Regions from separate parts of the Homo sapiens genome. Here all the other regions are linked to region 1. The links come from fine-mapping of genetic effects on plasma protein levels. A gene starts in region 1. Each other region holds a variant in brackets. All regions are shown on one strand. Distances are from middle to middle. Region 1 holds the start of CD33 (CD33 molecule). Region 2 holds the start of LOC101928517 (a long non-coding RNA gene). Region 3 holds the start of MIR8074 (microRNA 8074). Region 4 overlaps LOC107985327 (a long non-coding RNA gene).

Evidence for each region. PIP is the chance, under the fine-mapping model, that this variant and not a neighbour inherited with it causes the effect. Sun 2018 read protein levels with aptamers (SomaScan).
Region 2: its variant is fine-mapped to the plasma level of the CD33 protein (Sun 2018, PIP 0.95).
Region 3: its variant is fine-mapped to the plasma level of the CD33 protein (Sun 2018, PIP 0.95).
Region 4: its variant is fine-mapped to the plasma level of the CD33 protein (Sun 2018, PIP 0.95).

What each region holds. Positions count from the first base shown.
Region 1 is chr19:51,223,687-51,226,372 of GRCh38, forward strand. CD33 (CD33 molecule) reads left to right here and starts at 1,394. Exons shown (of 7, transcript NM_001772.4): 1 at 1,394-1,469; 2 at 1,532-1,912; 3 at 2,117-2,395; 4 at 2,623-2,670. The coding sequence starts at 1,433. The region is part of intron 2 of LOC107985327 (a long non-coding RNA gene); the gene reads right to left.
Region 2 is chr19:51,180,453-51,183,138 of GRCh38, forward strand. It overlaps LOC101928517 (a long non-coding RNA gene), which reads right to left and starts at 1,514. Exons shown (of 5, transcript NR_110732.1): 1 at 1,022-1,514. RefSeq lists an enhancer at 765-1,736. The variant G/C (reference allele first, on the strand shown) is at 1,484.
Region 3 is chr19:51,205,908-51,208,593 of GRCh38, forward strand. It overlaps MIR8074 (microRNA 8074), which reads right to left and starts at 1,102; the gene lies at 1,022-1,102. All of the region lies in intron 2 of LOC107985327 (a long non-coding RNA gene), which reads right to left. The variant GT/G (reference allele first, on the strand shown) is at 1,491.
Region 4 is chr19:51,244,567-51,247,252 of GRCh38, forward strand. All of the region lies in intron 2 of LOC107985327 (a long non-coding RNA gene), which reads right to left. It also overlaps a transcript of SIGLECL1 not described here. Among named protein-coding and RNA genes, the nearest start is that of SIGLECL1, 5.2 kb to the right of the region's middle. The variant C/T (reference allele first, on the strand shown) is at 1,676.

The sequences.
Region 1 (2,686 bases):
TTTTCTGCACTGGTTCATAGAACATGTGTTCTCCCTTTTGTTTCACAGGAAGATGCTGCATGGTTCTTGTTTTGGAGATGTCATTGACACTGTGCAAATCAGTGTACTAGGTGCCAGGGGAAAATTCTATAGTCATATTTCTTTTAAAATTTCCAATATGCTACCATGATACATGGCAAATTCCCAACTTTTCACAGCTCTAAAGCCAGACAGCATGTGTGTGTGTGGTGAGGACATGAGGCTATGGATGGGGAGTATCTTAAGGGCAGGAATCAGGTCAGTGGCATCTCTTCTCAAGCCCCACCTATACACAAAGGCTCACTGTAAGAATTAAAGAAAGAGGAAAGAAACACGAATGGTGGCTCACCAGTCAAGACAGATTTTAGAGAAAACAAACCTGAGAGGAGTTTCTGGCCGAGTTAAGTCAGAGGCACACTCTCTTACAGACTAAGAGTTTTTAAGGATTTAGGGTGGGAGAGTTTATCAGAGACTTGGACTGCTTCTGAGTCTCTTTGTTGTGCTTATCTGGGAGAGAGAGGTGTGTGTCTGTACCCATACATCTTTCTGCAGCTACAGGCATACCCACTGAGTCTGCTTTTAGCTTCCCTATCTTAGTGCACCTGAAGGGAAAGGAATTTGCTTATTAAGGCCCACTGTTTTACTAGGGCCATTGTATGAGGGTGAAGTTTGGCAGTAACTCAAGAGACTCTCCCCCTACCTCCCTCTGTGCCCGAGCTGTCTTATCTGTGTTTCACTGTCTGCTCTTTCTGGTTGCTTGTAGTTAGCAGAGAAGTGATTTCCTTGAAATGCATGAGGCTAGAAAGGAAATTGGAACTTAAAGAGGCAGTGTTTCTCCGAGATGACGGTGCTCCTGCTCTGTCACTCACTATATCTTTAGTGAATGAATGAATAAATGAATGGCTGCCACCTTCACTTTACCTAGGACTCTTCTTTGTTTCTCTGCCCCAGACACTCACACGGACCCTATAGAATCCTATATCCTGCTGGACTAAACACCCCATGGATCTAGGTGAGGCTGCGACTCGGGCCAGGCCAGCAGTGATCAGCCCTGGTGTAAACAGTTGTGCACAGAAAAGCACCTCAGAGTGGAAGGACTTTAGACATGGGGTTCGCATGTCTCAGATGGCCCTGAAGGTACTGATCCAGGCTCTGGTGCTCCTGGAAGGCAAGACTCAGATTCTGCTCCATCTCCTCCCATCTCTGGGCGGGTCTCTGGCATCTCTGGCCCATGAGGGTCAATCTGTGTGGAGGGGACAAGCTCTGAGCATGTGTGGGTCTGAGGTTCCTCTTCCATGCAGGGCTGAGGTCTCCTGCTCCTCCCCAGCTTCCTGTCCGGCCCTGTAGTCCTTCCCCTCCACTCCCTTCCTCTTTTCTGCTCACACAGGAAGCCCTGGAAGCTGCTTCCTCAGACATGCCGCTGCTGCTACTGCTGCCCCTGCTGTGGGCAGGTGAGTGGCTGTGGGGAGAGGGGTTGTCGGGCTGGGCCGAGCTGACCCTCGTTTCCCCACAGGGGCCCTGGCTATGGATCCAAATTTCTGGCTGCAAGTGCAGGAGTCAGTGACGGTACAGGAGGGTTTGTGCGTCCTCGTGCCCTGCACTTTCTTCCATCCCATACCCTACTACGACAAGAACTCCCCAGTTCATGGTTACTGGTTCCGGGAAGGAGCCATTATATCCAGGGACTCTCCAGTGGCCACAAACAAGCTAGATCAAGAAGTACAGGAGGAGACTCAGGGCAGATTCCGCCTCCTTGGGGATCCCAGTAGGAACAACTGCTCCCTGAGCATCGTAGACGCCAGGAGGAGGGATAATGGTTCATACTTCTTTCGGATGGAGAGAGGAAGTACCAAATACAGTTACAAATCTCCCCAGCTCTCTGTGCATGTGACAGGTGAGGCACAGGCTTCAGAAGTGGCCGCAAGGGAAGTTCATGGGTACTGCAGGGCAGGGCTGGGATGGGACCCTGGTACTGGGAGGGGTTTAGGGGTAAAGCCTGTCGTGCTTAGCGGGGGAGCTTGACCAGAGGTTGATCTTCTCTCAGGCCCTCACCTGGACCCTCCCTCCTGATTCTGCATCCCCTCTTTCTCCTCACTAGACTTGACCCACAGGCCCAAAATCCTCATCCCTGGCACTCTAGAACCCGGCCACTCCAAAAACCTGACCTGCTCTGTGTCCTGGGCCTGTGAGCAGGGAACACCCCCGATCTTCTCCTGGTTGTCAGCTGCCCCCACCTCCCTGGGCCCCAGGACTACTCACTCCTCGGTGCTCATAATCACCCCACGGCCCCAGGACCACGGCACCAACCTGACCTGTCAGGTGAAGTTCGCTGGAGCTGGTGTGACTACGGAGAGAACCATCCAGCTCAACGTCACCTGTAAGTGCTGGGCCAGGATGCTGGGGTCCCTGAGGGTGTAGGGGAGACAGGATGGGCTGGTGCTGGGGACATTTAGTGTCCTGGAGGCCTGGCTGAGTTCGGGAGCCAGAAGGACATGAGCCCTGTCCCTTCTGCATTTCTGTGGTTTCTGGCAGGAGTAAGGGGAAATGCCTACCCTTATCTCATCTCTACCCCCAACTGAAGGAAATCCTCTCTTCCTCTCCTAGATGTTCCACAGAACCCAACAACTGGTATCTTTCCAGGAGATGGCTCAGGTAGGAAGGAGCCTCC
Region 2 (2,686 bases), 43 kb before region 1:
AAAATTAAAGAAGTACTTTATGCAAGATTGTGCTACTTGTGTGTTTACCTTTCTGTAGATTTGGTAAGCCTGCCAATCAACACATATTTATCACCTACTGCGCGCAAAGCAAGTCCACAGTGCTTTTGAAAGTTGTACGTCTTTGCCTTCAGGGACTCACTTTCCATAGTGGGACCTCAGTATGCAGTGAGGAAACTTATCCTCTCACCTGCTCCCTGCCCACCTCCAATCTGTTCTCCACAGGGAAGACAGAGTAAATTCTAAAAATCCACTTTTCTGCTCCCTTCAGTGGCTTCCCATCACCCAAATGGGAATAGCAGAAATTCTTAAGATGAGTCCAAGGTGTTACATGCAGTATCATATATATGTATACATATATGTATACATATATATGTACATAGTATATGTGTGTGTATACATATATATGTACATAGTATATGTGTGTGTATACATATATATGTACATAGTATATGTGTGTGTATACATATATATGTACATAGTATATGTGTGTGTATACATATATATGTACATAGTATATGTGTGTGTATACATATATATGTACATAGTATATGTGTGTGTATACATATATATGTACATAGTATATGTGTGTGTATACATATATATGTACATAGTATATGTGTGTGTATACATATATATGTACATAGTATACGAGGAGATGGAGTTGGAGGTTCAGTGAAGATGTGCAAACCTGGATTTCCTCGGACCCTGGAGCAGAGAGGATGAGGAACGTGTTTGAGGCCAAAGGGGTCAACGGGTGGGTGGGGGTGTGGGTGGGGGTGGGGGGCTGCAGTCAATCACTGACTGGCTTATGGATGATTGACATAAAGGCTGGGTTGCCAGGGAGCCCAGTGACTCACAGCGTGAACCCGATTACCTGGTCTACACAGGCGGTAACCGTGTGACTAGCGACTGAGTGCCTTACAGGGGACGACCTCCTAAGAGGCTGACTGGCAGGAGCCCAGCTAACTGCTGGCCAGGGCAGGCCGTGGGGGCGCGTTACCTGATTGTCTGAGGAACTGGCTGGCGCGGGGACTGACGCTGACTCGCGGGGCGCTGCCCTGGTCACGGCCTCAGCTCCTCACCGGCCGCCTCACTGGGGCGACGGCCGCTGGCTGCCCTCGGGCTGAGCAGGTGACTGGCGTGGTGGAGGCGGAGGAATGCGCGGCGGGCTCCTGGTGATCTCCTGAGGGTCCGCGGTCTTGCCTCGTGACTGATCCAGAATGGGCCTTGGACCCCACAAGGGGCTCGGGGGCCTCGCGGGCCTGAGGGTGACACTGGCGGCCTCACGGGCCTGGGCTGCCCCACGCTCCAAGGGGTCAGCTGACTGAGGGACGCCCTGCTCTCCTGGAAGCCCACTTTGCGCAGTCCCGATACAGGTCCCGCAGCCGAGGACTGCCGGGGACGCCCACAGGCCAGGCACTGCTGTGAGGCCAGGAATCCTCCATCAGCGCGCGGAGAAAGC[G/C]GTGTGAAGGCTCCGCTGTCGCCCTGGGCCCAGCCCGCGCGCCTCGCACGTTGTGCGTCTACCCCACAGCCAATCAGTGGCTGCACAGGCCTCTTTAGTAGCCAATCAGCAGCTTCAGGTGCCTATTACGCAGCAGATCTGCGAGGCAGATGGAGCTTTCCCCCACGGACACTTGCCTCTGGGAGCTGACGCACAGCCAATCAGGAGCTGAAAGTGCAAGTCCCTCCCCGCACCTTCAGGCCCAGAGGAATCCTACGGGCTTGAGCCAATCAGCAGCCGCGGGCGGTGCCAGGAACGTTTGGGCGCCAAATTTCTTCTCAGCGAGTCCTTTCCTGACCGCGTTCTTGAAACCACGCTCCTCTCCAGCCAGCCCTGAGGACTCCGTTCCTCTTGATTAAATCTGCTTTATTTTCTCACACTTTACCCACTGCACACTTTCGAAACACTTCTTGCTACTCAACAATATTTTTGTGGCCGCCCCGCTAGGATACAGGCGCACTGCGGGCAGAATTTTGGCCGTTTTTTTCTCGCCGCTGTTTCCCCCACGGCCTTTGGCTGCGCCCTGCTCGCTGCTCTGGGATGAACTTGCCTTTCAGGCAGCCCTGCCCATCTCTCACCTCCCAGCTCACCTGTCCCACCTGCCCGCGGATCCTCACCCTCTCCGCTGGGCTCCCACAGCCCCGTCCTCCCCGCTGGCTCAGCCCGGACCCCGCCAGGCTGTGCCCGCCTCTGTCTCCCCTGCCCGTGGCCGGTGCCCCTCCAGGCTCCGCCTCGCCCAGCCCAGACGCCCAGGCGGCTCCGCCCCATAGATGGGAGGCAACTGCCCAGGGTGCAGGGGCAGCGAGGGGCTGCGGCTGAGAGCCCTGCCCGGTCCTGGGGAGGGAGGGAGAGTGTGGGTGGAGGGGGCAGCCCTGCAGATGTCAGAGACAGGGCGGCAGCAGCACAGGTTTCCTCTGGTGAGGAGCCCTTCCCTTCCCTTTTCTCCTTCCATCCTCTGAGCATCCCATGTTACAGGCTGTCCCAGACCCCTGTGGGGCTCTGCATCCACCGCGGTCCACACCGGGCTGTGCTCACAGGAACACATCGAATCCTCTCGACCACTCCATGGACTCTCTTGCCAGGGCCGCCTTGAGAAAGGAACACAGACCGAGTGGCTTCAACAACGCCTTTGTTTTCCCACCCTTCTGGAGGCTGGAAGTCTGA
Region 3 (2,686 bases), 18 kb before region 1:
AATGCCCAGTAACTGACAAATGGATAAATGGAATGTGGTCTTTCCATGCAATGGGATATCACTCAGTCCAAAAAAAGAAATGAAATAATGATGCATGCTACAACAAGGATTATCCTCGTAAACATGGATTTACCTTGAAAACATTACCCTTGGTAAAAGAAGCCAGACATGGAAACTCATCAAGCTTAGTAGGCCATTTAGAGAAAACCCACAGGTAACATTACACTCAATGATGAAAGACTGAAATTATTCCATTCACATTAAATATCCAGCATAGATAAATCCATGGAAATAGGTACACGTTAGTAGTTTCCAGGGGCTCTGGGAAGCAGGCAATAGAAAGTGACTGTTTCCCTTTCAGGGTGATAAAAATGTTCAGAAACTAGATGGTGGTGATGATTACACAGCACTGTGAATGCAATAAATGCCACTGAATTTTATACTTTTTCTTTTTTTTGAGACAGAGTTTCACTCTGTCACCCAGGCTAGAGTAGAACGGTGCGATCTCAGCTCACTGCAACCTCCGCCTCCTGGATTCAAGCAATTCTCATGCCTCCATCTCCTGAGTAGCTGAGATTACAGGCACCCACCACTATGCCCAGCTAGTTTTTTGTATTTTTAGTAGAGATGGGGTTTCACCATGTTGCCCAGGCTGGTCTTGAACTCCTGAGCTCAGGCGATCCGTCTGCCTTGGCCTCCCGAAATGCTGGGATTACAGACGTGAGACACCGGGCCCAGCCTGAATGTTATACTTTAAATTAGCAAATGGAAGAAATTCTTTTCTGATTTTCAAATATTACTGAAATTTTAAAGAAACAGCAGAGATGCTCAGGGTGAAGCAAGTGCTTACTGTGTGAATCCATTTATAGGAAGTTGTAAAACATGTAAAACTAGTTGATGGTGACAAATGTCAGAACACTGGTTGCTTCTCAGACTGTATGTGGAGGCAGAGATTAATATGGAAGGGCATGAAGGATGCTGTTTTCTCTGGTCAAAGAATGACCCTTATCTTGAGAGGGTTTCAGTTGTGTGAGTACATGCCAGTCTCGCCATAGGACGTCTCTGGGCTCCCATGGGCATCTTGCATAAACTCAGGAACTGGGTTCTTCTATTCTCTGCTGCCTCCCACCACCCTACTCTCAGAAGATACCTTGATTCTGGCTTAAGAGGAAATAAACACAGTGTAGTGATAGAGACCCTTTCCTGACTATAAAACTATTCACCTCATTGCAGCTGCTACCATCCCTCCTTCAACTTGGTTGTTCCATCTTACCTTGAAAAGTGACTTATGGAACAACTTGTCCAAACGTCTCCACTTTAGAGGGACACCAGTTTCCTGTGTAATTATGTTGATTGCAATGAAATACTCCTAAGAGAGGGCTGACATTCCTGCTTCCAATCAGAAAATGAGGTCATTAGGCAAACGTCCAGCAGAGAGAGTAATTAGAAAAGATGAAAACATGCATTCCAATCTATTCTGTTCTTATTAT[GT/G]TTTTTTTTTTTTTTTTGAGATGGAGTCTTACTCTGTCACCCAGTTGGAGTGCAGTGGCATGATCTTGGTCACAGCGATCTTCACCTCCCAGGTTCAAGCGATCCTCCTTGCCTCAGCCTCCTGAGTAGCTGGGACTACAGGCACCCACCATCACACCTGGCTAATTTTTGTATTTTTAGTAGAGATGGGGTTTCACCATGTTGGCCAGGCTGGCCTCGAACTCCTGACCTCAGGTGATCCACTTGCCTTGGCCCTTCAAAATGCTGGGATTACAGGCATGAGCCACTGCGCCCAGCCTATGTTCTTCTGGCTGGACTGGAGGACAGTAAGGAAACAGGGCAGGGCTGATGCTTTCCAAACACAGTGGGACATAGTCCTCAGGTCAGCAGCGAGCAGGGGATGGGAACCCACCTCATCTCACTAACCCTAGCTGCCATCAGTAGAACAAAAAGTCATTAATAAAATCCAAATCCTGGAACAGCTTCAAGGAAACAAATGTCAACATTGACCAAGTCAATAAACATGTCAGTGTCTTCTGGCCAGAGATCAGCAGGCACCAGGAATAGATATGTAGTTGGGTTATTACTCATTGCAGTGAGGAACCACGAAAACCATGAGGTGTTTCAGTAAGAGAGAATTATAACTGGCTTATTATAGGATTTGGACTTGTGTTAGGTGATTTGGGGAAACTTTTTAAAAAGCAGTGTTTGCTTCTTTGGATGTCAGGAAGTCAGCATAATTCTAACACTGGATCTTCATACATCTAATAAAAAAGGAGAAAGAACTAGACCAAAGCTACCTTAGTCAGTTTGGGCTAGAATAAGAGATATCACAGACCGGCTAGCTTAAAAAACAAACATCTAACTTTGGGAGGCCAAGGTGGGTGGATCACAAGGTCAGGAGATCGAGACCATCCTGGCTAACACGGTGAAACCCCGTCTCTATTAAAAATATAAAAAATTAGCCGGGCGTGGTGGCGGACTCCTGTAGTCCCAGCTACTCGGGAGGCTGAGGCAGGAGAATGGTGTGAACCCAGGAGGCGGAGCTTGCAGTGAGCCAAGATCGTGCCACTGCACTCCAGCCTGGGTGACAGAACAAGACTCTGTCTCAAAAAACAAACAAACAAACAAAAAACAAACATCTATTTCTCATAGTTCTGGAGGCTGGAAGACCAAAATAAAGATGTCAGTACAA
Region 4 (2,686 bases), 21 kb after region 1:
CAGAGTTTTGTTCCACTTCTCCCTTTCCCTCTTCACCCATTCCTGTAAGTCACCAAGTTCCTGGCCTGTCCCCTTCCCCTTACTCTCAGATCCAGGTCCCATCTTGACTCCTCTTCCCCAGAACATGGCAAAAGCCTCCTCCCCAGCCTCTGGGCTCCAGTCCCACCCCAACCAGCCCATCACCAAAACCATCAGCAATGGGAGCTTTCTAATACTCACCTCTAACCCTGTATCTTTCTTGCTAAATATCCTCCCATGCCTGCCTCTTTGCCTCAAGATGATGTTCTGACTCTAGTGAGAGTTATTCAAGCTTTTCCCAGGCCAGGAACAGTGGCTCATGCCTGTAATCCCAGCACTTTGGGAGGCTGAGGCAAGAGGATTGCTTGAGGCCAGGAGTTAACACCAGCCTGAGCAACATAGAGAGACCCTGTTTCTACAAAAGCAAAGAACAATTAGACAGGTGTGGTGGCACGCACTTATAGTCCCAGCTACTTGGGAGGCTGAGGTGGGAGGATCCCCTGAGCCAGGCGTTCAAGGTTATAGTGAGCTAGATCACGCCACTGCACTCCAGCCTGGGTAACAAAGTGAGACCTTGTCTAAAAAAAAAAAAAAGGCCTGGTGTGGTGGCTCACGCCTGTAATCCCAGCACTTTGGGAGGCTGAGGCAGGGAGATCATAAGGTCAGCAGTTTGAGACCAGTCTGGCCAACATGGTGAAACTCCGTCTTTACTAAAAATACAAAAATTAGCTAGGCGTGGTGGCATGCACCTGTAGTCCCAGCTACGTGAGGGGCTGAGGCAGGAGAATCACTTGAACCCGGGAGGCAGGGGTTGCAGTGAGCTGAGATCGCACCACTGCACTCCAGCCTGGGCGACAGAGCAAGACTCTTTCTCAAAAAACAAAACAAAACAAAACAAAAAATAACTTTTTACAATCTCACCCTCAGCTACCACCCCTCACACATCTCAGCCACATCCTAGAGATTGCATGTCCCTCTGTGCCTCTCCATGCTTCATTCATGTGGTTCTGTCTCTTTGCAATATTGTCCCCTGCCCTCCTTCTTTGCAGCACACACTCATCCTTTGAGAGCTGGTTCAAACATCACCTCCTCAGACAAGCTGCATTCCCTACCCTGTCCCCTCTCCCAGCCCCTGTACTTTCCCACAGCTTGGATTAGAGCAGTTTATCAACTGCTGTTGGTGGGCCAGTTCAGGTTCTTGACTTTGCGGCACAAAAGAATTTGAGAGCGAGTCCAAAGTAAGAGTAGGCAAAGAAGTTTATTACAAAGCGAAAGTACACCCTGAGAGGCAGAGGGAGGGAGAGACAGCCTCTAGCATCTCAAGGTAATTCCTTTCATGGGAACTATACATACATATTCATAAAATATTGGTGAGTCCAGCATGAAAGGCATGCACTCAGAATCTATGTGCTCTAACACGCATTGCATGTATCATTAGCATATAAAATCTCCACCTAGGGGTGTATTTTCTACTATTCAAATGAGGAAAAGGTCACTATAAGCTAAACTTTGAACATAGCTGCACACGCAGAGCCCTGGAGAAGTTCCCAGCTCCCCCAAGGCAGGAATTTGTAGCTCACAGCTTCTTGGGTTTTTGGTGTTGATTGGCTGGAGACTGGGGAAACTACACCATGAATAAGTGGCTTTTGTTCTCTTT[C/T]CCAGGCCACATTAACAGGAACTTGCAACCATCTGGTGGTCTGCTTGTATCCTGTAGGACTGTTTATCTTGCAAGAGTTAGGTGCTGACTCACGAGAGTGAAAACCAAAGAATCTGCTTCGAAAGGGATCCATGGGGCTTTGCGCAAGGATACAAGTGAGTATGGCCTCCTAACCTTACTTATCCTGCCTCACAACCTCAACGATATTCATATTCTGGCATTTGGGGCTGGATAATTCTTTGGTGGTGGTGGTTAGGGGAGGGTGTGGCAGGTCAGGTCTCCCTAACCGCTGAACAGGCAGGCCTCCATAACAACTGTCTCAGCACTGATTGAGTGGTTAAGTTAAATATTAAAAGCTGACAGAGCCAGTGCCCTCATACAAAGGCTGGAATGTAACAAAAGCCCACCAAGAATTTTGCCCAGGCCTTTTCTGGGCCTTGAGCATAACAAGATAATGAAGGAATTCTTAACAGGACCCGTTTAGGATTAAACAAGTTTTATTGGGGGGTCTGAAGAAACTCCTCTAAGCCTCCACAAACAAGTTTATTGGGGGTCTGAAGGAACTCCCCAAACCTCCATGATTTAGCAGGAGACAAGATAAGGGTAATCACCCCAGCACCTGGACCCATTTAGTTTAAATAAATTTACTGAGGCTACAGAGGAAGATCTTCAGGACTGACATCTTAGTTACAGATTGGAAGAAGTTAATCGCTTACGTCCAGATGAATGCACTCTTACATGTAGACAAATAGCTTAGAAGGTATATGAGCTCTGGAAAACTTTGTAATTTTGAGTTGGTCTGGCAATATTTTCCAGATCTTCTCCCTGTGCCCAGTTACAGAAATAAACTCCCTTCTCTCCCAGTTCACCTGCATCTTGTCATTGGGCTAAGAGAATAAGCAGCCTGACCCTTGGTTTGGTCCAGGAACAAGGGTGCATGGTCAGATGTTGAGCAGCGTCTCTAGGTTGTACACACAAGATGTCAGTAGCTCCCCTAGTCCAGTTTTGACA